Homo sapiens: one gene and its partners. The protein of the gene in region 2 purifies or fractionates together with the protein of the main gene of each other region. This does not show direct contact. Each region holds a gene or a part of one and is shown on either strand. Other genes may lie near its edges.

Region 1 (7,926 bases), on a different chromosome or scaffold from region 2:
AGAGCAAGACACCGTCTCTAAAAAAAAAAAAAAAAAAAAAAAAAAAGAGTATGTGCCTGTAACAATAGCTGAGTGTTGGCCAATCCCAGGAGTCATACTTTAACCACTCATAGACTGCTGAGTGTTCAAACTGTGTTCAAATAAGGCAAACACCAACCTGTAACCAATCTAGCTGTTCTGTTCCTGTACATCACTTTACTTTTTTTGTCTATAAATTGTTTCTGACCATGAGGCACCCCTGGAGTCTCTGTGAATCTGCTGTGATTCTGGGAGCTGCCCGATTCGTGAATTGTTCATTGCTCAATTAAACTCCTTTAAATTTAATTTGGCTGAAGTTTTTCTTTTACAGAAGTTGCTGCTGGCTTTAAACAAGGGTGTGTCAAGAAGTGAAATTCTGTGCAGGTGGAAAAGGGGTAGAATAACAGGCAGAAAGGTATGATGAATGCTGTAGCTTCTGATATCAAGCAATGAGTTCACAGTGGGAAAATTCATCTAATACACAAACCAAGGCAGGATATAATGAAAGCTCAAGAAATGTGTGAAATAAAACCAGAGAAAAGAAAGATTTTATAAAGATACTGGAGATAAGCAATGCAACTTGTCTGTTGAATAAAGTACTTCAAAAGTCTGCTTCACCCCCAGACTTCTGAGTTCTACCATACCTTTTAAATTGAACGAATAGTCTTTGTTTGGCTTCAGCTATGACGTATTATTTGCCATAGGCTTCTATTCATGACAATATTGACAACTGCTCAAAGTTTTTTAGCCTAAATTCTGTTCACATTGGCCACAATTGCTGTAAAAGCAGAGGCTTGAAGAAGACTTGAATAACACAATGAGTTAACAGGTAAGGGCAGCTGTTTGGAATCAATTATTTTTGCTTTGATATCCATACACTTAGCTGGACCTCAATGGGTTTTTTTTTTGCTTTTTATACAGGGTCTTCTTCTGTTGCCCAGGCTGGAGTGCAGTAGGGTACATGTCGTCAGGACCTCCTGAGGCTGTCATGAAAAAAAAAAAAAATATATATATATATATATATGTATACACACACACACATACACGTAGCCTATAATCCTAGCACTTTGGGAGGCCGAGGCAGGTGATCTCCCCGCTATGGATATGACCTTATTTGGAAAAAGGGTCTTTGCAGATTAAGGCAAGAAAAAGATGGAGAGTTTTTGCCCTTGCACCAGGCTGCCTGCTGATCTCTGCATAGAGCTTTGCATATATACAGTATGTATATATATACAGTATACTATATGTATATACACACTTATATATACACTATATATGTGTATATATACATACATACTATACATACAGTATATATACAATGTATGTATATATACTGTATGTATATACTGTATATATAGTATACGTGTGTACATATAATATATATAATATGTGTGTATTATATATGTATATATGTATATGTGTATATATACACACACTCCTGTATATATATATACATACACACCTGTACATACATATATATGTAGAGATCAGCTGTTTGTGTGTATATATATATACACACATATATATACATATGTGTATATATATGCATATATATACACATATATACACATATGTATGTATATATATGTGTACATATACACACAGGTGTGTAAGTGTATATATATACAGGTGTGTATATATATTCATAGTTACGGGTGTTAGGACTTGGACATATCTTTTGGGGAGGCATGTATATATATACATGCCTGGATTAATAGGTAAAAAAACAGGATTATGGATAAATTCATTACTAAGCATTGACTATCAACTACCATTTAATACATACTCTCCAATCCCAATAACAACCTCTGCAGGTAGGTGTTATTATCCTCATTTTACAGAGATGGTAATTATAACGGGTTGAATTGCACCTTCCCCAAAAGGTATGTCCAAGTCCTAACACCCCTAACTATGGATATGACCTTATTTGGAAAAAGGGTCTTTGCAGATTAAGTTTAATTCAGGGAAGAATCTCAAGATTAGATCATCCTGGATGAGGGTGGGCCCTAAATCCAGAATAATGTGTCTTTGTAAAAGAAAAGATGGGAAGAAGAGACAGGAAGGTCATGTGAAGACTGAGGCAGAGATGTGTGTGCTGCCACAAACCAAAGAATGCTGGGATCCACCAGAAGCTGGAAGATTCTCCTCTACAGTTTTTGGAGGGAGTGTGACCTTACAGACAGACACCTTGATTTCACACTTCTGGTCTCCAGAACTGAGAGAATCAATTTCTGTTGTGTTAAGTCCTTAAATTTGTGGTGATTTGTGAAGGCATCCCTAGGAAACAAATACAGTAAGTAAAGGGGGTCTTGACTTCAGGGACGGAGAAAGTAGGTTCCTACCTAGGTTTAAGTCTCAAGGAATGGAGGAGGGAGGAGAGGTGAGGAGAGTGAAAGAGAGACAAGGAGAGCGGCAAGTCGGGACCAACTTTCCCCGACTTGAGACAGGGTCAGGATCACCCTACATTTCTTCTCTTCCCTCACCCTCCTCCATCACTGCAAAGATGAGCCTTTGTTACCCTGGGGAGCCTGTGTTGGCTCTCCTGCCTTTTAGGCAAGAAAAAGATGAAGAGTTTTTGCCCTTGCACCAGGCTGCCTGCTGATCTCTGCATAGAGCTTTGTCATTTACCATGCAGTTTCATGCTCACAATCACTTTCAACCCTGAGAAGAACCCATCTTCCTGATGAGAAAGGTGAAGCACAGAAGCACTTGCTCAAACTTATATGTGTTCGTGCTGCTCTCAATCGAAGACTCCAAATTCCATTTTATTACCATTGCACCATACAGCTGTGGACGAATAATTCTTCCGTAACAGTTAAAACAAAACCAAACCAAAACCATTTTGTGGAGTTTGTTCATGAGCACCAAAAATCACTGGAGAGTGTGTGCACTCAGCACACGCAAAGTTGTGTGTATTATCTCCCTTGTGGGGTAAACTTTGGTACAAGGATTTAGCCTTCCTTAGTTATCTTGGTTTGAGGAAATAAAAGGAAAATAAGAGTTTTGCCTGAACATATGGTGTTAAATATGCCAATATAATATTTGAAGTTTTGCACTCAATATATATAGTGTTTGAAAGCAAGGACTTTGGGCAGCTTTCGGTAGTTGCGTTTTCCGTGTTTTTCTAAACTAGCCAACCTTACAGAGGTTTAATTTTGAGAAACCAAGCTCCTAACACTTCTTCATTCATAACCCTTTTTTTTTTTTTTTAGACTGAGTCTCACTCTGTCTCCCAGGCTGCAGTGCAGTGGCACGATCTCGGCTCACTGCAACCTCCTCCTCCCGGGTTCAAGTGATTCTCCTGCCTCAGCCTCCTGAGTAGCTGGGACTACAGGCGTGCGACACCACGCGGGGCTAATTTTTTTGTATTTTTAGTAGAGACGGGGGTTTCGCCATGTTGGCCAGGCTGGTGTTGAACTCCTAACCTCAGATGATCTGCCCGCCTCGCCTCCCAGAGTGCTGGGATTACAGGCGTGAGCCACCGCGCCCGGTCCATAACCTGGTTTTAATCATCAAGTTATAATTTTTTCCGTTCTTAGTGTGGGAGGGGGCTTGTGACAGCTACCTGGCAGTAAGTACTTAAGGCAGACATCTACATTCTTTACAGAGGGGCTTGTCACTTCGTTGGCTCCCCACTTCCTCCACACCCTGGGCAGGGACCATTTTCTCTGCAATATTTGCTATCAGCGCTGTTTCAATTCAGTTTGCTGGCCCTCTCAGTTTTTTTCCAGCTTGAAACAACACCTGAAAAGTACCTGTAAGAGATTTTGGTCGAATTCAGCGGCAATCTGGAAAATCCCTTCTCAAAATCCCTTCTGCTCATTCTTAAAAATAGTTCTGGTCTCTAAGAGAACAGCAATGTAGTAAATAACATACAGGGTTTTGCCCTTCGTTGCTCTGATAAGGGCTGGCGCGGTAGAAGCGCGGAGCCTGAACACCCAGGAGACACCTGTCAGCTTGGTGAATGAAGGCTTGCGCCGGCCTGGCATTTCTGCTACGCCTAAGCGCGGATAGTATTGGCTGAATGGTAGGGGAAGGTGTGGTTGGAATCTTCCCCCAGAAAGGGAGTGACAGATACTTAGCCGCAGGGTTTCTGTGCCAGGGAGATGGCGGCTCAGTGGGCTAGGCAACGCGTGGAGAGAGCTTCCTACTCTCGGGATAAGCAAGATTGAGCCCCACAGCTGTAGGCCATGTGGGGAAGGAGGTGTGGAAGCCAGAAGCGGCGTACACGGCTGCGTGGTGCGCTCTGCGTTTTCCTGTCCTTGGAAGCCCTTTCCAAGAGTTCGTTTTACACCCACACAAACAAGACCTCAAGCGTCCCAGATACGTCAGCAGTTCATTCTGCGGGTGAAGAAAATATTGACATTTTTCAGATGAAAACTCTCCTCCTGAAAGGACCTTTGCTGAGTGCTGGGGGAGGCGGGGCGCGGGGAAGAACGGAGACCGCCCAGGAGGCTGCGGCACTCCTGGGCTAAGTACTGCCAGGGAGCTCCCCCGTTGGGTGACGGAGGAGGTGGGGCGAGGGCAGCGCGCAGAAATAGGGCGCTGGGCGCCCGAGCGCAGCCAGCTTCCAGCACAGCCCGCGGCCCGGTGCCAGCTCCGCCGGCGACCGGTGTGCCAAAGTGCGGTGCTCCCGCAGGGAACCTGGCTCGGGGAGGGCCTCCGTGAGTCATCTGCTGAGTTGTCGCAATCGCCACCCAGAGGAAATCAGGCACCGGGCGGGGCGGGTTCCTGGCTGCGCTCGCGCGCTCTGCCCGCGCCGCGGTGTGCCTCCGCTTACCCGCAGCTCCGACCACTGGCTCGCGCTACCCAGGTCTCCGCACGCCGCGGTGGCTTCAGCCCAGACCTGGGCAGCCAGCGGAGAAAGAGTTAACTGGCAGGGGCGAGGAGGAGCCCAGGGAGGAAGGAAGGATATTGCCGTAATTCTGAAAGTTTTTTTCCTTCCTCTCTTCCCTTCGCAGAGGTGAGTGCCGGGCTCGGCGCTCTGCTCCTGGAGCTCCCGCGGGACTGCCTGGGGACAGGGACTGCTGTGGCGCTCGGCCCTCCACTGCGGACCTCTCCTGAGTGGGTGCGCCGAGTCATGGAGGGCGCAGAGCTGGCCGGGAAGATCCTTTCCACCTGGCTGACGCTGGTTCTCGGCTTCATCCTTTTACCTTCGGTCTTCGGAGTGTCTCTGGGCATCTCCGAGATCTACATGAAGATCCTAGTGAAAACTTTAGAGGTGAGTGCCGGGAGGGATGCAGCCAGCCCCACACCGCTGCGGGCTGAGAACCCGGGGGTCCAGTTCTCAAGGTCAGTGGTCGCGAGTCAGGGGTGTGTGTGCGCGCGTGTGCATGCGTGCGTGCATTTCTGTTCCTTGCCCGCAGCAGTGCGAAAGTCAGCATCTCGGCTTCTTTCGCGGAGCTGGAGGGATCTAGGCTGGAACCACTGGACCACTCTGTTGTTTCTCTGGTCGAAGGCGAAAAAATCATTCCACTCCCTGAGCATCGTTATTATTTTACTGATTAGAATAACAACAATGCGACCAACTTTTTGTATCAGAGGATTTGCTTATATCCATTATGCAGTGCAGTTTCCGCTTCACCCGCTTGTTTTTACAGCCCCAGGTTTCAGAGGTCCTTTTGTGTACTAAGGCATCCAGTTCAGAAAGGCATCATGTTCTTCTTTATGCCCAAGATAAGAGACCAATTGCTGGATGGCAGAAAGAAATCTTATTTTATTTTAGTGGAGTCATGGAAATTTTATCTAACCAACAGCACTTGAAATGCCATTGAAAAGGTATATATTCTTTGACCTCAGGTCTCCCTACCCTCCTGTTTCCAAATCCTGCAAAGAAAAATGTTAGATGGAAGTAGGCCTGGTAGAGAACAACTGCAGCTTACTCTTAGGGTTTTATTAAGTGTCAAAAGGCTGGGTAGGGTAGGGAGGGCAAGTGCCAACCCCCTTTTACAGAGAGGGAAACTGAGAGTCAGAGATCAGTGGTTTCTTTGAATTAAGTGTTAGAAGCAGGAGTCTTTTTTTAAAAAAAAATTTAATTATATGTATAATATGTGTGTGTGTGTGTGTGTGTGTGTGTGTGTGTGTATATTTAACATAAGAGACAGGGTCTTGCTATCTTGGCTAGGCTGGTCTTGAACTCCTGGCCTCAAGCAATCTTCCTGCCGTCACCTCCCAAAGTGCTGGGATTAAAGGTGTGAGCCCCACGCCTGGCCAGAAACAGGCATCTCAACTGAGAAGAGGCCCTGCAGCCTAGTGGTTAGGATTAGGGACCCTGGATACAGGTTTGCTTAGATTTGGTACCAAAATTGTAGCTCTGTTTCTCAAAATGTGACCTTAGGGAGGTCATCTACTCTTGTGCCTCATTTTCTGTATCTATAAAATAGGAGTAACAATAACTCCTATTTCCATAGGGTTGTTCAAATGAGTTAAAAGGTATCAAGCACCTTAGAAGGCTGCCTGCACCTACTGTATGAATGCTTGTTGCTATTAAAAGAATAATATGATTACTGAGATTCTGGCATTCCACAGTGCCTTCTAATAAGTTTGGTTCCCATTTTTGTGACCTGTTTTCTCTCTGCCCTTAGGACGTGGCTTTATCTGCTCTTCTTTCTCAGCTAATTGGGTGGCTCCCAGGTATACATCTCTAACCCACTGGACATTGTCTTGTACTTGCTAGCCTCCTGTATTGCCCTAGACTCTTGTTTGTGGCTATTTCTTTGCCTAGACTTTGAAGTTGTATGTGATTCTTCATCCTCAGTGCTCATGTTTTTAAAGTTCTACTGTTTCTACTTGGGAGCTATTTCTCAGTTTTGAACTCTTCTTATTGACTTTACATTCTGAGCTTGGTCACATTATGCTGTGAATTTCTTGACTGCTTCCTAATGTGAGATCTTCAGAATCCTCTCCCATAGCAGATGATCCTCTTCAGCTGGTGTTCCCTCTTTCTCTGAACTCTGAAATGATTGAACTGCTCTCTCATACAGCAATGTCTTTTGGAATTTATACCCTGTGTAAGAATGGTGTAAAGGTAAATCACACCCACTGGCTTCCAGGGGCTCACTTCTGTCTGTTTTTCTTTAGTAACTCAAGGTCAGCTAAGGACGGAGGCCAGCTAGTTGCTGTCAGCCTGGCAAATTATTATACCTGATAGGATGATCTCCAGTCCAGGATCTGACTTTCAGTTTGACAGGCCAGAGATTTTAATTTTTGTCCTTCTGGATAACTCCAGAGCTGAACTCCTTGTCAATCAAACTGACAAGAATGCCAGTTTTCTAATTCTGGTGGGAGAAACCAGATAACTTGGAAACCAGGTAGGTGACACATCAGGAACCCACCCTGTCTGCTGAGACTAAGTTATTAGGTCAAAGAGATGCTTGATATATGTGGAATTTGAATACAGATTCATTGTGTGAGCCAGCTCTGATTTGTTGGTTGCGGCTGCCTGGAACTCCTATGTTTGGGAGCATCTGAGCTCATCAGGAAAGAGAGCTGTGATCCCATAGTGATTTCTGCTTTAGGTGCAGGAGAACAGTAACCCAGGATCCTCTATCCTTCAACTAGAACAGTGTTAGATGTTTCAAAGACATTTCTGTTAGACTGGGGTTAATACGGTGGATTGCTTTTCTCAACTATAGGAATAATTCCTTAAGGGATTATGCTGATGTTTAGCATTAGAACATCTTCAGTGCTGGCCAAATACCCTGCCTTTCTGTAGATTGCATTCAAGGCCTAGCCCTTGTATCACTCCTTGGTAAATTCTTAATTGATTTAGTTGTATTTTTCTTTACATTTCATTCCCAAGAATATTCTTTGGGCTCTGATCATAATTGGATATTTCTCAAGTTTCTTTGCTTATAATTTATGTACCATTTAAAAAGATCATTTAGTTTTGTCTATTATATGTTTACT
Region 2 (7,452 bases):
AGTTATGAGAGATGCCAATAATCAGATGAGATGCCTTCCTTGTCACCTACTGAAACATTTAAAATAAGTCAGAATAGTTACTAAACTCTAAAGTCCGTATTCATAGTTACTACCTTACCCAGTGATCATAGTTGAAATTGTAAATATGCTTCTCTTGTCATAAAATATAATTTGTATATGAATAGGTAAGATATTTGCATTCTTTTTAACTCTGGGATTATATCATCTAGGAAATTGAATCATTGACTTAGAATAGCAGACCCAAAAGAGAGCTTGGTGGCTATCAAAAGCTCCTAAAAACTTTTCTTTCACTTCTCAATGGACCTCTCACCTTGTGGAAGAGTATGTTAATTCTTTATTACTACATACATATGCATGATAGGATATATTAGTATATTCTTATGCAGCTGTGCAGAGTAGATTTTGAAATGGTTTCTCAGCAGATAGTATTAATAAAAATCTACAGGCATAGTTGGATGCATGAACAACATTCAAGGTTACATAGCAGGAATCATTAGATTTATTTCTACTTTGCTTATCATACCACTCTTCTGGCTGTCTTTACTAAACAATTTTTGATGTATTTATCTGCTTAAATATTAACTTTGACCAGTAATGATCATCTCTTTTTCTGTGAACAACAAGCCCTAAAAATAAACTGGGATATAGGGCAATTTCAAATGCAGAGTATCACTTGACACAGGGCAGAGCTGTAAGTTGTGTTCAGCCTTGAAGGTCACTTTATTTCCTTGTGATTAATGTGCTAAGGTATCTTTTCACATAAGATGAATTGACTTTTATTTTTAAATAGAATGCATACTTTGGGAACTTTTTCACCTATCAGATTGGCAAAGATCAAAGAGATTATTTGTTATACAGAAGACAGTAGAAGAAAGCGGGCACTCTCATGCATTGCTGGTGGTAGTGCAAATGGACACAATTTTTATCAAGGGCTATTTGGTAATATTTATCAAAATTATAAAAGCTCATACCTTTTGATCAAGCTGTTCCAGTTCTAGGAATTTATTCTACAGATATGGAGATGCAAGATATACAAAATAATTTGTTGGAACATTGTAGTAGCAAATTATCAGTGATGATCTAAATATATGGTATACCATACCAAGGAATATCATACAGTAGTTTTTTAAATGAAGCTATTACATTGAGATCAAGAGTTTTGAAGAATTTATTAGAGTGAAAAACTAAGAGGTAGAATTATGCACATAGTAATAGTTGTGTAAAAAGAAGCAGATTGGGGGCTGGTGGGGAGAAAACACATATTAGCTTGAATATATATAGAGTGTTTAAGTGTGTATACACACATATATATATGCTTGAATATACAGAAAATATTTATTGAAGATTTTGGTTACTTATTGGGAGGTACAGATGGTACAGTATATTCTAGGGAGAAAGGGTAGGAAGATATATATATATATATATATATATATGTTTCTTTACTCTTTGCCCTTTAATATCTTATTACAGTATTTTGTATTCAAAATATAAATATATAAAATATTTTAAAGTAAAGACAGAGGCAAATAAACACCTTTGGTAGAGTTTTATTCATTCATCACATGCCATGGAATTAGTAAGGTACAAAAGTCAATGAGTATTTTGACGACCCCCTGATTTTTGTTGTTGTTTCTGAATTTACAAGAAAGCTTCCTCTTTCAAGAGTTTTAGAAATAAAATTATATTGGAGAAGCATATTTAGTACTTGATTCAATAAAGTTATTTAATTATACTAGCAAAAAAGGCATAATTTTAGGGTATTAAAAAAAGTCTTAATTTTGAGATGGGTGTTGAGTCCCATGTAGTTGGTAAGAAATAACACAGAGAGTTCTTGTGAGCTCTTGACAAATTTCCTGCAAATATAACATTTTGTAATAACTATATTAAACCTTCCTAATCAGAATATTGACATTGATACAGTTAAGTTACAAAAGAGTTCCATTACATAAGGATTAACTGTGTTGGCCTTTTATAACCACAACCACTTCACTCCAGTCCCCAGGCTCTCCTTAACTCCTGGCAATCTCTACTCTGTTCTCCATATTTATTTTTTGGTCATTGCAAGAATATTATATAAATGTAATCATACAGTATTCAATGTATTTGAATTGATGTTTTTTCACTCAGCATAATTTTCTGTAGATTCATCTAAGTCATGTATATTGGTAGTTTTTGCTAAATAGTAGTTAATGGTATGGATGTGCCAGAATTTATAACTATTTACCCATTGAATGACATCTGGATTATTTCTAGTTTAGGGTTAATGTAAATAAAACTGCTATGGACATTCCTGCATAGGCTTTTCTGGAACATAAATTTTCATTTATCTGGGATAAATGAGAACACTTGCTCGGTTATGTGGTAGCAGTGTGTTTAGTTTTTAAATGAACAGTCGAACTTTTCCAGAGTGTTTGTACAATTTTACATTCTCACCAGTAATGAATAAATGATCCATTTTCTCTGCATCCTTGCCAGAATTTGGTTGTCACTATATTTTGGCCATTCTGATAGGAATATAGCAACATCTCATAGTATTTTATATTTGCATTTACCTAATGGCTAATAATATCGAGCCTCAGTTCTTGTGCTTCTTTGTCATTCATATATAATATTCATTGAAATATCTCTACCTGTTTTCTTATTTTATTTATAATGGTCGAGTTTTTTTTTGTTTTTTGTTTTTTTTCGAGACGGAGTCTCCCTCTGTGGCCCAGGCTGGAGTTCAGTGGCGCGATCTCAGCTCACTGCAAGCTCTGCCTCCCTGGTTCACACCATTCTCCTGCCTCAGCCTCCCAAGTAGCTTGGACTACAGGTACCCGCCACCACGCCCGGCTAATTTTTGTATTTTTAGTATAGACAGGGTTTCACCGTGTTAGCCAGGATGGTCTCAATCTCCTGACCTCATGATCCACCCGTCTGGGCCTCCCAAAGTGCTGGGATTACAGGCGTGAGCCACCGCGCCTGGCAACGGTCGAGTTTTAAGAGTTCTTTATATATCCTAAACACCAGTCATTTGTGACCTTCAAATATATTCTCCCATTTTTAAGCTTTTTTTTTTCCATCCTCTTAATAGATTCTTTCTCATAGCAAAAGTTTCAAATTTTGGGGCCTAGTTTATCAATTTTTGTGTTTCTGAATCCTGCTTTTGTCATGTCTAAGAGCTCTTTGGTTAACCCTAGATCTCAAAGATTTAATCTGATGACTTGTTTCTTAAAGTTTTATATTTTCCACTTAAGTTTGTAATTCATTTTGAATTAATTTTTGTATAAGATATGAGATTTAGGTTCAGGGTTATACTTTTGCCTAGGGATGTCCAATTATTTCCCGAACAATTTGTTGAAAGAGCTATTTTTTTCTCCATTGAAATTGCTTTGGTACTTTTATCAAAAATTAGTTAGGCATATTGTGTGCACTTCTTTCTGGGTAGCCTCTTCTGTTACATTCATTTTTGTCTATCCTTTCACCAACCTCACATAGACTTCATTACTGTAGCTATATAATAAGTCACAAAATTCGATAGAATCATTCCTCCCACTTCATTCTTCTGTTTAAAATTGTTGTAGCTCCTCTAATTTTTTGCCTGTTCATATAAATTTTGAAATAATCTTCTTTGTAGAAAAATGTCACTGATATTTTGATAGGAATTCATTTAACCATATATCAATTTAGGGAAATTTGACATCTTTCTTATGTTGAGTTTTCTAATCCATGAACATGGCATGTCTTCCCATACATTTAGATCTTCTTTCATTTACTTTATCAGCACTTTGTAGTTTTCAGCAAAAATGTACCATCCAGGTTTTGTTACATTTTCGTGTAATTATGTCAGTTTAATGATTGTAAATGCTATTGCATTTTTAATTTCTGTGTTCACTTGTTTATTGGTAACATATGGAACTGTAAATGATTTGTGTATGTTTACCGTGTATTCTGTGACTTTTTTGGACTATTACTCTAGAAGGTATTTTTGTAGATTCATTAGAATTTATAATATAGACAATCAAAATATCTGCAAAAAAATTGAATACTGTATTATTACATTCATATAACATTCTTGAAATGACCAAAAAATAAGTATGGAGAACAGATTAGAGGTTGCCAGGAGTTAAGGAGAGCCTGGGGACTGGAGCACAGTGGTTGTAGTTAAAAAAGGCCAACACAGGGAATCCTTATGTGATGGAAATCTTTTGTAACTTGGCTGTTCTTCTTTCTTGATTTATGTGACTTATACATAAATTTGTAACTTGACTTTTCTTGTTTCTTGATTTATGTGACTTATACAGTTAGGCTTCTGTGTCCTTAGGTTGTGCATCCACAGATTCAACCAAATGCAGATGTGAATATAGTACTTGTGGGATGCAGGACCCACAGATGAATGTGGGACTTGAGCATCTGAGAATTTTGGTATTTGTGGGAGGTCCTTCAACAATGTCCCTTGGACACTAAGGGCTGACTGTATTTTCTTTTTCTTGCCTTATGCCACTACTTAGAACTTCCAATACTATGTTGAATAAGAGTGTGAGAGTGGACGTTTTTATCTTGCTTCTTATCCTGAAGGAAAAGCATTTAGTCTTTCACCAGTAAATATAATATCAACTGTAAATTTTTTGTAGATGCTGTTGATCAAGTTGAGAAAGTTTCCTTCTGTTCCTAATTTTTGACATTTTTGATCATAAATGGACATTGAATTTTGTCTTTCCTGCATCAGTAGATATAGTCATGTGATTTTTCCTTTAGCCTGTCATTATTGTATATCACATATTGATTTTTGAATATTGAACCAACCTTGAATACTTAGAATAAACCCTACTTGATCATGGAATATAATTCTTTTTATACATCACTGAATTCTGTTTTCTAACACTGTGTAAAGGAATTTTGTGTCTATATTCATTAGGAATATTGATCTGTAGTTTTTTATTTTTTACTATGATCTTTGCCTGGTTTTGGTACCTGAGTAATACTGCTTTCATAAAATGAAATACAAATTATTCTATCATCTTCTATTGCCTGAAGAGATTGTGTAGAATTGATGTTAATTCTTCTTTAAATGTTTGGTGGAATTTTCCAGTGAGATTTCTTTTGTGACAGTTTTAAAATTATGCATTCAACTTATTTATTAGTTATATAGCTATTAAATGTTCTATTTCTTATTGGCTAAGTTGTGGTAGTTTGTGTTTTTTAAGGAACTGATTGGTTACACCTCAGTTACTAAATTTATGTGTGTAGAGTTTTTGTTAGTATTCTCTCATGGTCATTTTGATGTCTGCAGATTTTGCAATGATAATTCCTGTTTCACTTACGATATCCAAGATGCCTTAAGCATGAAATTGACTTTATGCAGCTTTACATATGATTGACTAAATGTGGCTTTGAAAGTTAATACCTATTTCTATTCTAATACCTATGAAATCACTGTGTGTATTTAAAAACCTAAACCACATATCCTCTACATAGATCTAGCCACATTGTGAACAGGTTATTGGACAATATTTTAAATTTCAGTACAGTTTGTATAATTTTAGTTAAATCCAATACATAAGTAATCTTATCCATAGACAAATGTTTCAGATATCTATTGCTACACAACAAACCATTCTACAACATAGTGTCTTAAAATAATGACTTTTTAAAATCATTCTTCTGTGGGGTGGTTGGGCTCATTTGGGTGGTTCATTTGCTCTAATTGGTGTGTTACCTGGCTGTTCAGCTAGGGCTGGAATATCAATACCTTTGTTCTTATGCCTGGAGCTTCACTTCAGATGATGGTTGCTTGAGACTATTTCTCTCTCTCTCTCTCTCTCTCTCTCCCCCTCCGCCCCTCCCCCCTTTCTCTCCCTTTCTCTCCCTCTTTCCATGTGGGGTTTCTAGCAGGAGAAGCAGACGTTTTACATGGTGCCTAGCTTCCAAAAGAGGGAAAGCAGAAACTGCCAAGCTTCTATAGCCTTGGAACTTGCATAGTTTCACTGCTGCTACCTTCTGGTCAAAGCAAACCAAAGTTAACCCAGATTTAAAAGAAGGGAAAACAGCCTACTACAACAAATAACTATAAAAGATCAAACAACATTGTATAAGGATGTATGAACAAATAAAACATATTCAGTGCCTTTAAATTAATATTTTTAGAAAACATAGTATAAATTAGTTTAAATAATAGTATATGCCTCCTAAAGATGTGTCCAGTTCCTACTTCCTGACATCTATAAATGTTACCTAATTTGGAAGAAAAGTCTTTGCAGATATAGTATTGAGATGAAGATATGATTTCGGAAGATCCAGATGGGCCCTACATGCCATGACAAGCATCCTTATAGGAAAGATGGAGAGGGATGTTAGACTGAAGTAGAAGGAAGTAGGCAATCTGACTACAGAAACAGAGAATGGAGTAATGAGGCCACAAATTGAGGAATGCCAGCAGCCACCAGAAACTGGAGAAGGCAAGGTTCATGTTCTCCCCTAGAGCCTCCCGAGAAAATACCACCCTGGTAACGCCTTGATTTTGGTTGACTGTAACTTAATTTGGATTCTTTGGTCTCCGGAAGTATGAAAGAATACATTTCTGTTGTTTTAAGACATTAAATTTGAAGTAATTTTTTTTATTCTCAATGTTTTTTAGGGCATATTAGTATATTTTATTTTATTTTTTGTTATACTTTAAGTTTTAGGGTACATGTGCACAATGTGCAGGTTTGTTACATATGTATACATGTGCCATGTTGGTGTGCTGCACCCATTAACTCGTCACTTACATGAGGTATACCTTACGTTAATAAAACTTTGTCTTAAAAACTTTTTGTCTACTTCAGAAATCTCTAAAAGAATTTTGAAAGATTGTCTATCTTTGATTCACAGAAGTCAACAAAAATATACTCCAATTTATGGAAATTGCTTTATGATTATAATTAATTTTGAAATAATTACGATTTCACAGAAGGGTGCACATGGAGGTGTATGCACCATTTACTCGACTTCCCCACCACTAACATCTTATGTCAGATACGGTACTATATAAAAACCAGCATATTGATGCTGGTATAATCCATAGTATGTCCACGTTTATAGCTCTGTGAAATTTTATAAAATGTATACCTTCTTCTATCCCTTACCACAATGAAGATAGTAACCTGTGTGCCTTACCATATGATTCTCTCCTGCTACTCTTTTATAAGCACACCCATTTACCCTCTCCATCCCTAACTCTTCAAACCATGAATATGTTGTTTATTTCTATAATTATGTTATTTCACAAATGTTATATAAAAATTGTTATATATGTATTTCTTTGAAATTGGCATTTTTATATTGTTTTCACTGAGTATCATTTCCTTTAGGTACATGCAAGTTGTTGCATGTATCAATAGTTCTTTTTTACTGCTGAGTAGTGGTTCATGGTGCGAATGTAGCACAGTTTAACCATTCACCCATTGAAAC
Region 3 (7,452 bases), on a different chromosome or scaffold from region 2:
CAGTTGATAAAATAATCTCTGTGCATTTAAAACAGCAGGAAGTTTGCTATAAGTAACAAGGGTTCATCAGCTTTCTACTCCCTCCCTTCTATTATTATAATACATCTATGTCTTAAGCAAACAGCTTTCCAACTTGGGTGAGGACCAAACCCCAAACTTACAACTAATATGAAGTTACAACTCTAATTCTTTAGAAATGAGAGAAGTCCAAACCTCAATAGAAGCCTGCCATGCTTATTTTGAAATGTTAAAAAAAAAAAAAGATCCAGGTGTCTTCAAAATTCAAGCAGAATAGCTTGAAACACTGAAAGTTTAACATGATGACATGTGTGGCTGTTTCCCTCTCAAAATGGCAGCCTGCAAGCACCTGTGCCTTCATCACTCTAGTTTAAAACCCCACATTCGTGACTGTGCGGTTCAAATGGCCACTGCATAAGCACAGCCCAAACTCTGCCCATCTGAGTTAAAAAACATTTTATTCTTTTGAGACAGGGTCTCACTCCGTCACCCAGGTTAGAGTGCAGTGGTGTGGTCATAGCTCACTGCAGCCTCAACCTCCCAGGCTCAGGTGATTCTCCCACCTCAGCCTCCTAAGCAGCTGGGACTACTGCATGCCCCACCATCCCTGGCTAATCTTTTGTAATTTTTTTGTAGAGATGGGGTTTTGCCATGTTGCCCAGGCATGGTCTCTTCCATTTTCAGTTCCATTTTCATGCACAGTAGGGTGAATTTTCAACTTAAAAAGACAAGTAACAAAAACCTGGCCCGGGCACCACCACTGGGTGCCCTTGTGCCCATCCACTGACCCCAACAAGCTCAAAAACCTTTCTTGTCACAGTGTAGCCACCATCAAATATTAGAAGTTGACCCACAAGATGAAACTTGTTTATCCTCCCTTTAAAAGGGTGGTCCCAACCTTAGTAATATTAGGGTCAAAGCCATGTCAATTACAAACCACCTTCATAGTATCAGGAGAGACACCACAAAATATGAAGCGCAGGACGTCGTATGTAACTCATGAGGCACAAGAAAATCAGAATAGAGGCCAGAAGCTCACACATTTCCAGGGACAAGTCCCAGAAGCAAAACATAAAAGAGCTGGCTTAGGCTGAAAACCAATGGCTCTCCTCTCTCCAAGGTCAAAGCTATCCCACTCCCCAAATCACTCACAGAGTCTTTCTATGTGCTCTCCCCAACTTGCCCCGAGATTCAGGCCAAACAACTGCCCGTTTGTTCATGACCCAGGCTGAGATGGGGAGAACAGCCCACGTACACCCTACCCTGCCTTCTGAGGGGTCTACAAGCAATAAAACCTTTCCCGAATAGGAAGGGGGTAAGCTATCCCAAAGTTGGCAGAAGTTCTGCAAAACATGTTTTGTGGGGGTCTGGGACTAGGTATGAGACAAACGACTTTTAGGCTCAAAGAAGTTTGGAAATGCTGGGTTGAGACTTCTCGGAACCTTTCATACACCGGAATGCTGCAGAGCTCCAAGCAGAGTTTCCAGCCTTTTGGTCTGTTTGTTTGTATGCCTCGCAGAACCTCTCAACAGTTTGTAAGCCTCCAGGGACTTCACATGCAAATAACTAGCTAGCTGAACATGCAGACTGCCCTCCTCACTAACCACAGAGGGCAGTAAGTTGGCTATTGAAGCTTTCAGTCCCCAAAATGCTCTCATCTCTTCTGGATGGCTACATAAACAGACCAGTGAGAACCACAGTAAACCCTGAAGGGAAGGGAAAGGAGGGGCAGCAAAGAAGCAGAAGAAATGGAAATTAAAGTTAACTAAGATTTTTTTCCTAGTCTAATATCAATCTTAACACATTGATCCTCATCCACTCGAGCAGCTGAGAGCCCTCTTAAAGGGCAAGTGACATCGAGACCTGCTCTCGGAACTGTCTGCAGGAAGACTGGTGTTAGACTAGGATTGAAGATGAAGCACATCTTGAAGTTTACTGATCTCTGCCATCGGATGCTGGGTGAGGTACAGCTCATTCATGCCTTCCTTGGCTCATGCTTAAAACCCATCACACTCCTATCCTCCCATAGTTCTGCACGTTTCTCATCCACTCGGGCAGCTAAGAGCCCTCTTAAAGGGCAAGCGACCCTGACACCTGCTTTAGGAACTGTTTGCAGGAGTCAGTGCAGGCCAGCTCCACATCCTGAAGGGGATGCCATCCGGGTACGAACAGCTCAGAGGCTGAATGGCCCTATCACCCGGGAGGAGCCTGGAGGGTATTCCATCTAATCCTGTGGCTAAGCGGGGTGGATGAGGGAACACACGGACTTGTTCGAGAATTTGCCCAGCAGCACGAAACTACTTAGAAGCAGAAAACTGGGGCAGGACCTGGCGTGGGAGTTAGGGAGCCCTCCACTGCCTTCTCAGGGATCCACATGTGCTCCTCTGTGCAGGAACTTTCAACAGCGCCTCAAGATAGAGTCACAGAGAACGATGGCAAATTCCATAGCACTCACTTTTTCTTTCCTGAGAAATAAACAGATTTGGGAGCTCAGTACATCAGTAATATAAAAGACAGTGGGTTCAGAAAAAAAAAAAAGGAAAAAAATGCACAAATTACAAAAAAATATGTATAAAGAGCTTCATACCTTTTTTCGTTTTTGGTTACCTGTAACGTTTTAGAATTCAAGAAGGTTTCCAATGAGGAAAGACGGAATTATTCAGAAACAGCGTTCACCTGATACGGAGAACAGCTCCCCAGCGGGAAGTCATCATGTCTCATCTGACAGTCTAGCGAGCTGCGTGGCCCCTGGTCACTCACTCACTCACCCTCATGGGTGGTCTCTGTGCACTCATTTATAAAACAAACACACTGGACCTTGCCAGTGATTCCCAGATGTGACTAATACCCAGAATTCCAAGAACTAGTTAAAATACAGCTTCTGGGCACCACCTCCTCCCCGTTCCTGGTGGTTTTGGATTCCATAATTCTGAGCGGGGCTCACGCATCTGTATTCTTAAAAGTTCAGCCAGGTTTGGGGAGGCTTGGACTAGGTGGCCTAAGAGAACCCTTTGAGGCCCAAGCTTCACTACAGAAATTTCTGTGTTACCCACGTGCCAGCTACTCTCAGGGGGACAGTCAGCAAGGACCCATGAGGAATCATAACACGGGGCAAAGACCTGTGAAGATACAAGGGGTTGCTCACTGCCTGGGCCCAGGGTTAGTTATTCAAGCAAGATATGTAAAGTTACAGATAGTATTTAATTGGTTACTGTGATATCATAGAAATACCAAGAATCATAAAAGTAAAAAAAGCTGCTAAGTTGTACATAATGTTTCCGGAATACTAAGAAGTTGCTGCTGGTCTACAGAGCCCTGGGAGGTGACGGTGAGGATGGTCCCAAGAGGCGCAGCTAGGGTCACTGGCCCCGGTCCTGGTGCCTCTTGCCTTTGCCTTTCTTCTTCTTGTCCTCTGGCCGTGGCTCCAGGGCGCAGACACAGGCGGACCCGCCAGCGATGGCCTTGGGCAGGTCGACGCCCCTGCTCCACTTGTCGGCCTCGCGGTCGTACACCTGCACGGTCTTGGAGAAGGCAGTGTTCTCCCAGCTGTAGCCGCCCAGGATGTAGATGCGGCCCTCCCACACTGCCACGCCCGACTCGCTGTTGGCGTGCAGCAGCGGCGCCACGCGGGTCCACTGGTTGCACTGCGGGCTGTAGGCCTCCACGCCCAGCACGTCGAAGCGCTCCATGGACTCGATGTTGTCATCGCTGCCCCCGATGGAGTAGATGCTGTCACCCAGGCTGCACATGCTGTGCCAGCCGCGCGCCGTGGTCATGGGCCGCCGCTCCTCCCACACGTCTGTCCGGTGGTCGTAGCATAGCAGGTTCTTGCGGTAGGGGCCAATTTGGTAGTCGTGGCCCCCCGAGATGTACACGAAGTCTTTGTAGATGGTGCCCGCGTGGCCGTACGTGAACCTGCAGGGTCGACGGGCAGAGACAGAGGGAGAGCTCAGGGCTGTGCCAGGCTTACCCCCTCCGAGCCGGGGAACAGCCTGCCGTCTTAGAGGGCCATGAGGATTTAAGAATATAGGGAGTGGGCACCCCATGAACACTCTATAGACAGTAGCCGTCATTAGCAAAGAAATGGCAGGGCAGGGCGGGGAAGTGGACAGCTTTGCAGTCAGGCCGCCTGGGCCAGAACCCAGCTTCACTCTCTCTGAGTCTCCCTTGCCCCATCTGGGAAATGGGAATAATCACAGGACCATCACCCTTTTCACAATGGCTGGAAACGACTAGAACAATGAGCTAGCAGGCACACATGCACCCGATGAATCACACATCAAAGAGGAAATACGACATACAGTCCAATTCTAACTGTGCTGGCACTCGGGAAAAGTTTTGCCTAAAACCATAGAGACAGCAAAATCAGTGGCTGCCAGGACTGTGGGGAGAGGGGAGGGAGGGATGGACAGCACGCACACAGTGGGCTTTAGGGCAGTGAAATGATTCTGCGTGATGCTGTAATGGTGGATTCATGTTGCTTTGTGTTCCTCAAAACCCACACAACTGTGCCAGGAAGTGGGAACCCTGATGTAAACCAGGGCCTTTAGTGAATAAGAAAGGATCAATATGGCCAGGTGCAGTGGCTCATGCCTGTAATCCCAGCACTTTGTGAGGGTGAGGTGGGTGGATCTCTTGAGGCTAGGAGTTCAAGACCAGCCTGGCTAACATGATGAAATCCTGTCTCTACCAAAAATACAAAACTTAGCTGGGTGTGGTGGCAGGCGCCTGCAGTCCCAGCTACTCAGAAGGCTGAGGCAGGAGAACTGCTTGAGTTCAGGAGGCAGAGATTGCAGTGAGCCGAGATCGCGCCACTGCACTCCAGCCTGGGTGACAGAGAGAGACTCTCTCTCAGAAAAACAAAAATACGAGCGCTTACCCCACACACTTCTAACTCTTACGGACACCTGGATGTATTCCACAGCAAAGACTGGTTCAGAAAGTGCACTGCTGGGTGCGGCAACAGGGAACTGGTGGAAAAAATGGTGTGCACCTTCTGCTAATCCCATGGAGATAATAAATGCTCGATACATGCACATCGGAACGCAGGGGAGACTGAGGAGGGTGAGGCGGCCACCCTGGGGCACTCCCTGCATGTGGATGCAGGTTTCACAAGCAGCACTGCATCTGCTCTGCACAACAGTGCTGTGGGGTGGGTATCATTATCGTCTACCTCTACAGATGAGGAACTAAAGGCCGAGCGGGGTGAAGACCCATGCCTGAGGCTTAGATCTAGCACATATACCCCCATCTCTTTGAACTCCTCCTGCCCAAGCTCAGGGAGATCCTCAGGTCAGGCCTCACCCTCTGAAGCTCAGCAACTGCACACACTCAGCCATGGAGGGATGTCCGTCATGGCGGCAGAGCTGACCCTTGCCCTAAGTCTGAAACCGGAGCCCGGACTGTGCACCGTCACGCCCTCCGCCCCTCATGGTGTACCCACTCTTCCTGACAAGCCGGAAGATTTCATTCCTGGAATTGGAGGCCAACATGCCCAGAAAGTGAGGCACGTGGACTGAACTATGTCCCTTAAAAACATCCCATTTGGAGAACCTTCCACCAAGCCCCAGATCACCTTGGCAAGCCGGCCACATAGGACCAGGAGTCAGTCTTGGGACTGTACGTCTCTACTGAAGAGAGCGCTCCGTTCTCATTCCGGCCGCCGATGGCCACCAGCATGTCTTCGATGGAGGCAAGGTAGAAATCCACACGGCGCTGGTTCATGGAGGCCACCTGTGGAGTTGAGATACCTGTACCTTCCCTTCCCCGAACCCGGGACAGCATCAACATCTGGCGCTGCGGTTCCCAAATGTGTCTGCGGAATGCACAACCCCGGAGAATGTTTGGGAAAGGGAACTGCACCTGAATAAAGAGGGCTTCTTCAGGTGGGAGCTCTGAGCCCCCGAGGTTTCACCAAGATGCTCTGAATCCCCAAAAGTGGGATGGAGACGCTCTGAGTCCCCAAAAGGGGGATGGAGATGCTCTGAACCCCCGAACTTCTCTGGTCATGTCGTTAGCCGCGTGGATGGGAACTCTGTGGTCACAGGGGTCAGAATTGCTGATCTAGTGGCTTTATGAAATAAAAATTCATCTTTCCTCTCCCCACATCAGATTTGTAAAGTTAGTGCTGCTCTGCCACTCCGTGTTAACAGAGCAGGACGTGGCATTCGACAGGAAATTAAACAGAAGAGGCTGGGCGCGGTGGCTCACGCCTGTAATCCTGGCACTTTGGGAAGCCAAGGTGGGTGGATTACCTGAGGTCACGGAGTTCGAGACCAGCCTGGCCAACATGGTGAAACCCCGTCTCTACTGAAAATACAAAAATTAGCCGGGCGTGGTGGCAGGCGCCTGTAATTCCAGCTACTCAGTAGGTTGAGGCGCCAGAATTGTTTGAACCTGGGAGGCAGAGGTTGCAATTAGCCGAGATCGTGCCACTGCACTCCAGCTTGGGTGACAGAACAACTCTGTCTCACACACACACACACAAAAAGTAGAAGAGCCAACTTTTTTTTTTCTTTTTTTAAACGAATCCAAGGCAAACACACTGCTGCCACTGCTGCCAGGCTTCGGGAGGAGGCTCCAAAGCCAGGGACCCTTTCCAGTGGTGACACTTCGACCTTGGAGGGCAGTCTCAGATTTCTGAGAGTAAAATCAAAAGGTCAGCTGGAGTCCATTCTGACTGGGTTTTGAGCTGAGAACAGCACTGAGCTGGGCGCGACGCTGAGGTGTGAGTATAGAGGCTGAGATGGACTGTCCCGGGGACCGAGTGGCTGGAGAGCGCTCCCAGCAGAAAGGAGACACCTTCCCTACGCCAGGGGCTTGCCAGTCAACATGAGCTACTGCACTCCCTGTCCCCCACGTATTCCCAGAAGGGGAATCCAAAATGTGGAGAGGACAAGAATCTGAAATTTCCTAGCTATGACTTAGCCAGGCTGGGATGAGACCTCAGGTCTGACATCAAGGCCCACGCTCTTCCCAGAATCAGGACACAATACATGCCCAAGGGCCAGGCGTGAGCACTAGTGGTCTCCTTAAACTATCTCCCAAAATGCTTCCAGAGGAGCCCCACAGAGACTCCAGGACCTGGGGATGTTGAACCATGGATCAAACATCTAGACCCATGCTACTGTCCAATAGGGTAGCCACGCCTCGTGCGGCCACATACACTTACACGTCAATCGGTTAAAGTGAAATAAAATTGAAAATTGACTTCTTCAGTCGCACTGGCCACATTTCAAGTGCTCAGTCGCCACATGCGGCTGTGGCTACCGTATCGGGAAGTACAGACAGACCCTTCCATCTGCACAGAAAGCCCCGCCAGGCAGTGCTGCTCTGAACGATGACGGACCCCTCGAAGGGGTGGGTCGGCTCTCCCTCTCCCTGTCCAGGATGTAGGCCCCGGGGTATTCTGCTCGTCACTTTATCATCACACCT
Region 4 (7,313 bases), on a different chromosome or scaffold from region 2:
AAGTTTTCTAATTGTCTCTTCAGCCCACTCAAATTTGCATTGAACTCCTCTAGTGAAATTTTTTATTTTTTACTTATTGTACTTTTATTCTAGAATTCCATTGCTTTTTAAAATAATCCCTATCTCTTTACTGATATTCCCTATTTTATGAAGCATTGTTGTAATTTTTTTGTTTTTGTTTTTGGTTTGTTTGAGCCTGGGTCTCACTATGTTCCCTAAGCTGGTCTCAAACTCCTGAGCTCAAGCAATCCTTCTGCCTTGGCCTCCCAAAGTGCTGGGATTACAGGTGTGAGCTGCCACAGCTGGCTGCCATATTTTCACTTAGTTCTTTGGACATATTTTTTTTCTTTTTTTTTTTAAATAGAGTAGATGTGCTGTGTGAGACTTGATCTCATGGTTGAGTAACTTCCTTGAAGTCCTTATATGCTAAGTCCAACATCTCACAACATTTATACTGATTTTCACCTCTGTGTATGGTCAATTTTTCTGTTCATTTGCATGTCTGCTTTTTTTTAATTGAAAACTGGACAATTTAGATAATATAGTGTAGCAACTCCTGTGTTTTGGTGTGCCCCTCAGAGGGTGTTTTTTGTTGTTTTTCTTAGTTTATACATTTGTTGTGTGACTTGCCTGGACTAATTCTGCAGAGTTTCTCTTCCATAGTGTGTTGACATTGATGTTTCTGCTCAGTTTTATTTTTTTCTCTTTTACGTTTATTTCTAAGGTTGGTTTTCTAAGGTTTTCACCAAGGTCAATATAGCTTAGAATTTAGTCAATGATTGATCAGATGTGGTAATTAGACACCTCAAGCCAGTAAGACTTCTACCCTTTCTTGATGGACCTGTGTCATCTAAATGGGTTGAAGAACATTCAAAATTCAGGCAATTTACAAGACTGCTCTGACTTTTGTTTTGCTGGGTTTTCTTGTGTCTCCTCTGCATCTCTGCAAGGCTTCTCTGGCTTTTGTTTTCCTGTGTCTCCTCTGCCTCTGTGCAAGGCTTCATGTTCCGCCAGGGTTGAGTAGATGACTGGGGCTTTTGCCAGACTCTCCTGAACTGACACAGCCTTCCAGACCATAAGCGCATCGCCAAAGCCCACTATGGCTATCTGATTCCCTGGATCTCACTGCTAAACTTCCAGCAGGCTTTCTAATCAGCTGTTTGCTCAACCAGTCTTGCAGCCCAGGTAATTGTGATGTTGGCATTCCCAATCAACCTTTCTCCTTGGCCATGGGGTTTTGCTGGCACCACTCCTTACCAAGTCAGCCCCCTCTGGCAGCAAAGCTGCTGGTTTTCACATTTACGCAGCCCTGACAGAACTATTCCCATGGAACTGGAGGAGAGGGATTGGGAATTTCCCCATGGTAACGTGTCACAGACTCTCACTGTTGTTACCCAAGGTTTAATAGTTTTTCTTGAATAAATGCATTTTAATTTATGTTATACCTGTGGTGGATTTCCAGGAATTTGAAATGGTTGTTTTTTACAATTGTGTCCAATTTCATCATTGTTTTTTGGGGAAGAGAATTTGCTGAATTCCTTACTCTGCCATTCCAGAAGTCACAATATAGCCCCATTTGTTTAAAACTTCATCCTTAAGCTCTATTCAAAGTTCTTTCCCCTGATCTCTGGAGCAGACTAGCTTGGTTGCCCTACAGCTCTAGAGACTTCCTTCTTCCCCTTTCTTTTCTAGGCTTTAGCTCCACTGGTGGCATTAGGGCAGGGAGGAGGTGGGAAGAAAAGAGCAAATTTTCTGACCCATTGGGCAAGGTTGTAGCCTCTCTCTGTTGTGCTGTTTCTCTGGCTAATCCACCCTGGCCCCAATAATGTATGCATGGCAGGCATCTATATGCTGACCTCTTAGGGGGTATATGTGGGAATTCTTGAAATACTCTTTTTTGGGGCCTGCCCATTGCCATTTTTTGGAATATCTGAATTAAGTCTAAAATCCACATTCAATAATTCAAATACTCAGGACCCACTATGTGCACAGGATCAGGCCAATTTGGCCCTAATGACAAGCCTACAACATGGCCCCTAGTCTTCATCTTCAAGTTGAGGAAAGTAAGACTCAAACAGGTTAAGGGCTGGGCACAGTGGCTCATGCCTGTAACCTCAGCACTTTGGGTGGCTGATCAGGCAGATTACTTGAGGTCAGGAGTTTGAGACTAGCCTGGCCAACATGGTGAAACCCCGTCTCTAGTAAAAATACAAAAAATTAGCCAGGCATCATGGCACACGCCTCTAGTCCCAGCTACTCAGGGGGATGAGGCAGGAGAAACACTTGAACCTGGAAGGCAGAGGTTGCAGTGAGCCGAGATCGCGCCACTGCACTCTAGGATGGGCGACAGAGCAAGACTCCATTTCAAAAAACCAACCAAACAAACAAACAAAAAAAACCCAAAAAAATAGGTTAAGTAATTTGTCTAAGATCATCAGTCCTAACAAGGAGTCCACATTACTCCGAAGCCTGTGCCCTTAGACTCAAAGTTTTGTCTCCAGATTAAATATTGGGAGTAATTACAGCTCCTGCTTTTCTTCCTCTCAGGTCAGGTTTCGTCCAATACAGTGGAAGACTGGTTCCTCCTCAACTTATTTCATTCTCATCCCTTCGACAATTAAAACACTGTTTCTAGAGTCACACTGTCCCAAGTTTGAATCCCAGTTGTTCTACTTTTGCTTCTATGTGGCCATGGGCAAGTAACTAAACCTCACTGAATCTCAGTGTCTTCATCTGTAAAATGGTTTAATATATTAATAGTAGTATGATTTTATTAGGTAGGGCTGTGTAAAAAACAATCCTAAATCTCAGTGACTTATAACAGCAAAAGTTTATATGTCACTCATGTGACATCTCAAATGTGAGCTGCTTCACATCCCCTTTTTCTTCCAGGACCAAGGCTGAAAGAGCAGCCCCATCTGACACAGACTATTCTCATGAAAGGAAAAATTTCTCTGGTTGAAATACGTAATAACTGTTAATACTACTGCTCAGAAAGACCCCCTGCCAAAAGAAGATCATACAATCAAGCCTGACATCAGTGAGGCTGGAAAGAATGCTCCTCCTACAGGATGCACTGCAGTCGCATGGCAACGGGCGATGATGTGTAATCCTTAACTGGAAAAGCAACTTAATAGTTAGGAACAACAATACCACCTACCAGAGAATAATAGTACCTTCCTTATGCATGTGAGATTAAAATGAAGTGAGGCACATGCAATGCTTAACACAGTATTCTACACTTAATAAAAGGTTTGATAAATGTTAGATGCCATTATTATGATTACCACCTCCTGGTGCTGCTGAAAATTTTTCTCTTCACCGTACTGGGCTAAACCTCACCTGAGAGCAATAAAAGCAGGAGCTGTAATTACTTCCAATATTTAATTTGGAGACAATAAAGCTTTGAGTCTACGAGGAATAGGCTTTGGAGTAATGTGGACTCCTTATTAGGACAGATGATCTTAGACAAGTTATTTAAACTGTTTGAACCTTACTTTCCTCAATTCAAAGATTTGAGACTTGGAACTGTGTTGTAGGCTTGTCATTAGGGCCAAGTTAGCCCAATCCTGTACACATAGTGGGTGCTGAGTATTTGAATTAGTGAATGTGGATTTTAGACTTATTTCAGATAGTCAATGAACTGTATGCATAACATAACCACAATACTGCCTTTTCCATCCTTTGGGTCTCAGCTCAAATATCATCTTCTCAGAGAGACCTTCCCTGACCACCTGATTTAAAGTACCTCCCGTGCCTCCAGTCACTTTTCCCCGTTTTCTTGTCGTTACAACTCTGGTAACGCCCTGAAATTGTCTTGTCCATTCACTGTTACGTAATATCTGTCTCTGCCACTAGAAAGTAAGCGCCATGCAATCCGGATCATGTTTTCTTATTTCCACCTTCTGCCGTGGACCTCTGGCATTCTCGTCTGTAAAACTTAGGGGAGATGGTGAGGAAAGGGAGAAACACGAGGTCTAGCCGGTCCACCCGGGTCTCAAGCCCCGCCCAACTCAGGCCTCGCGTTCCTTCCAGGCTGGGCACCGCCTTTGGTCACCCACGTGGCCCGCAGTAAGGCCCCGCCCTTTGTGGGTGTGGCCTTTCACGGCGTGCGGGCCGTCCACCGGCGGCGAGCCACGTCACACGCACGCAGGCCATGCGCCGCGCCTGTTCTCGCCGCGGGCGGAAAAGGGGCGTGGCCATGCGCGAGGACCCCGTAGCCGCCAGCGCCACCGCCTGAGTCGCCTGCAGGTGGCTGTTCGCGTCTCCCTGCCGTGCAGGCAGCTCGAAAGCCACTCTGTTGTGGGGTCCTCGCTTCCCTTCCACGTCTCCCGGAAGCGGTAGCAGGGCCCCGGCGGGTCGGGGAGGAGGTTTACTCAGCTTGGGCCCCCTCCGGGCCAGCCGCCGAGGGGGCGCGGCCCAGGACGGCGGCTAGGCCGTAGTGCAGCCTCTCCGGAGTCCTCAGGTGAGGCGGAGGCGAGGGCCCACTGGACGAGACGGGGGTGTTAACGGTCCTAGGAGCGGGGGCGCAGTCCCTTCAGTGGAGACCCTGGTCTCTCCGTTTTCTTTCGGGTCGCGCTCATCTTCGCCCTGTTAGGGGCTGAGGAGGGTAACTGGAGAGACTCCTTGGGCTTCAGCCGACGTCGTTTACTGCCCTCCTCTGTCTTCCTTTCTCCTGACCCCTGCCTGGCCTGGCCGTTCTTCCCGCACGGAACGAGATGGGTGGGGAGCAGAGTGGGGGTCTCTGCTCGCTTACCTGAGATTCCCCAAACTGACAGACCCCAGGGCTCTACGGACTGGGCCTGACCGACTGACCTCCAGCCTCCCTCCCTCTGTGCTGACGCCTGGCCTTCGAAGCAGGCCCTGCCGCAGCCCTTTGCAGACCCATCCCCATCCCACGCACTCTCTGCCCCTGGGCAGTGTCTGGGGAATTGACGGGTGCCTCTGAAGTCCTTCGTGTCTTTGAGATGTTTGCCCAGGGCCCATCTAAGTATTTAATTAGGTAATCGACATTAATTGCAACATTAGTAGCAGTTGCATGGTATGTTTTAAAGCCCAATTAATTTTGAAATGGGAGGCAAGATATAAAGAATTAATGAGCGTGTTTTGATTTTTTATTACTTTTTTTGTAGAGACAGGGTCTTGCCATGTTGCCCAGGCTGGTCTCAAACTCCTGGCCTCAAGTGGTCCTCCCCGCTCGGCCTCCCAGTGTGTTGGGATTACAGGCGTGAGCCACAGTGCCTGGCCTGTATGGTGTTCTGTATGTTACAGAGCATTTCATCTCCATTTTCATTTGATTTTTTATAAACTCCGAAATACATAGGCATTTAATAGTCACATGTGTAAAGAACAGATTTAAAGGATGAGTTTCTTCTTGAGGTTTTTTAGATTTTGAGCTGTATGGTATAGGGAGGCAAGGGTTAAAAGTAGGTTTGGCACTAGGGTAACTTAGACTTGAGTATCTGAGCTGCTGTCTAAACTCTGGGATCTTTCTAAACCCTTTCCACATTTGCTTTAAAAAAAGGATATTGCTGTTTACCACATAACGTGGCTGTGAAAATTACATGTGATAAAAGATACATGTGTACCTGTGTACAGCATCAGTCATATAAAAATTCCACTCAGCAGTATTTGTGAGTGCCTACTGTGTGCTAGACTCTGGGAATTCATTGGTGAGCAAAACAGACATAATCTTTATCCAGCCACTGCCCCACTTTCCCCAAGAACAAGAAGCATGTTAAAAAAATACGTAATTATAAAACATGAAGGACTGTGAAGCAAAAGAATAGGGTATGTACAGATAATGATTGACCTAACTTAGCTGGAAAGGAGAACTCTGAAGCAAATGACATTTGAGTGAAGACCAAGAACAAGAAAGTTAACCATGAAAGAGTTCTTGGCAAAAGGAACAACGTGCACATTCTAGAAATGGTTGTGGACTTTATTATAGAGCCCTTCTGTATCTATATCTTCATCATTACTTTGATGTATTGTGGCACACAATAAGTACTCAAATATATGTATGGAATGAGTGGTTATGCAATTTTGGTTTTTATTCTGGACTTAGCTTAATGTGCACATGGTAGGTATTGAGTATGTGAATTATTGAACATGTACTTTAGATAAATTATGTGCACACCTAAATTATATGTAATAGTGCTGCAGTTTAACATTAAGATAGCTTTTGTATTTAACGGAAACGTTTTTTCAAGTTTTAGCACTTTAAAACAAACTTCAGTGAATTTTATTTTTATTTGGTTGTACTGGAGTTTTGCCATATTGGTTATTTGCTGTTTGGATGTTGTTTTAATTTGCTGCTGTAGCAAAGTACCACAGATTGATTGGCTGGGCCAACAGAAATTTATTTTCTCTCAGTTCTGAAGACTTGAAGTCCAAGATCAAGGTATTGGCAGAGTTGGTTTCTTCTGAGGCGTACTTCTTTTGCTTGCAGATGTCTGCCTTCTCCCTCTGTCCTTTCTGTATGCCTGTTTGTGTTGAAATTTCCTCCTCTTAGAAGGACATGCCAATTATATTTGATTAGGGGCCACCCTGACGACTCATTTTAATTATCCTTTTAGAGATCCTATCTCCAAAAACAGTCACATTCTGAGGTCTGGGGGTTAGGACTTAAATAAAGGAATTTGGAGGGATGCAGTTCAGCCCATAACAGATGCTTTTGCTACATTAAGATTTGCCCGGCCGGGCGCGGTGGCTCACGCCTGTAATCCCCGCACTTTGGGAGGCCGAGGCGGGTGGATCATGAGGTCAGGAGATCGAGACCATCCCGGCTAACAAGGTGAAACCCCGTCTCTACTAGAAATACAAAAAATTAGCCGGGCGCGGTGGCGGGTGCCTGTAGTCCCAGCTACTCGGGAGGCTGAGGCAGGAGAGTGGCGTGAACCCGGGAAGCGGAGCTTGCAGTGAGCCGAGATTGCGCCACTGCAGTCCGCAGTCCGGCCTGGGCGACAGAGCGAGACTCCGTCTCAAAAAAAAAAAAAAAAAAAAAAGATTTGCCCTTCTTTGAAATAGTAATAATAAAAACAGTAATTTATTATTACTTTGAAATAGTAATAATAAATAATAAAAATAGAAATAATAATAAAAACAGTAGTGGTAGTTGTAATAATGGTAATAGCAGCCACTAAAATGAGTGCTTATTATGTGCCAAGCATTTTGCAAAGTGTTTTTTATATATTATTTCATCATAAAACCATCCTATAAGGTAAGTACACTTTCCCCCCCATTTTCTAGATAAGATTTCTCAGCCTCATTTAAGTAGTTTTCTCAAGGTTACCTAGCTAGTAAAAGGTAGG

The links.
Region 1: the proteins of SLC6A15 (region 2) and GPAT3 purify together in Homo sapiens (co-immunoprecipitation; 4 studies listed by BioGRID and IntAct, with this or other methods). This does not show direct contact.
Region 3: the proteins of SLC6A15 (region 2) and KLHL36 purify together in Homo sapiens (co-immunoprecipitation; 4 studies listed by BioGRID and IntAct, with this or other methods). This does not show direct contact.
Region 4: the proteins of SLC6A15 (region 2) and GOLGA5 purify together in Homo sapiens (co-immunoprecipitation; 4 studies listed by BioGRID and IntAct, with this or other methods). This does not show direct contact.

The regions. Positions count from the first base shown.
Region 1 is NC_000004.12:83,531,525-83,539,450, forward strand, and holds the start of GPAT3 (glycerol-3-phosphate acyltransferase 3), read left to right. Parts: upstream 1-4,583; 5' UTR 4,584-4,979; coding exon of another isoform or gene 4,980-5,098; coding exon 5,099-5,239; intron 5,240-6,174; exon of another isoform or gene 6,175-7,328; intron 7,329-7,926. UniProt on the Homo sapiens protein: Converts glycerol-3-phosphate to 1-acyl-sn-glycerol-3-phosphate (lysophosphatidic acid or LPA) by incorporating an acyl moiety at the sn-1 position of the glycerol backbone.
Region 2 is NC_000012.12:84,902,604-84,910,055, reverse strand, and holds part of SLC6A15 (sodium-dependent neutral amino acid transporter B(0)AT2), read left to right. Parts: intron 1-7,452.
Region 3 is NC_000016.10:84,658,059-84,665,510, reverse strand, and holds part of KLHL36 (kelch-like protein 36), read right to left. Parts: intron 5,752-7,452; coding exon 5,594-5,751; intron 3,934-5,593; coding exon 3,378-3,933; 3' UTR 1-3,377.
Region 4 is NC_000014.9:92,789,992-92,797,304, forward strand, and holds the start of GOLGA5 (golgin subfamily A member 5), read left to right. Parts: upstream 1-4,313; 5' UTR 4,314-4,465; exon of another isoform or gene 4,466-5,002; intron 5,003-7,313. UniProt on the Homo sapiens protein: Involved in maintaining Golgi structure. Stimulates the formation of Golgi stacks and ribbons. Involved in intra-Golgi retrograde transport.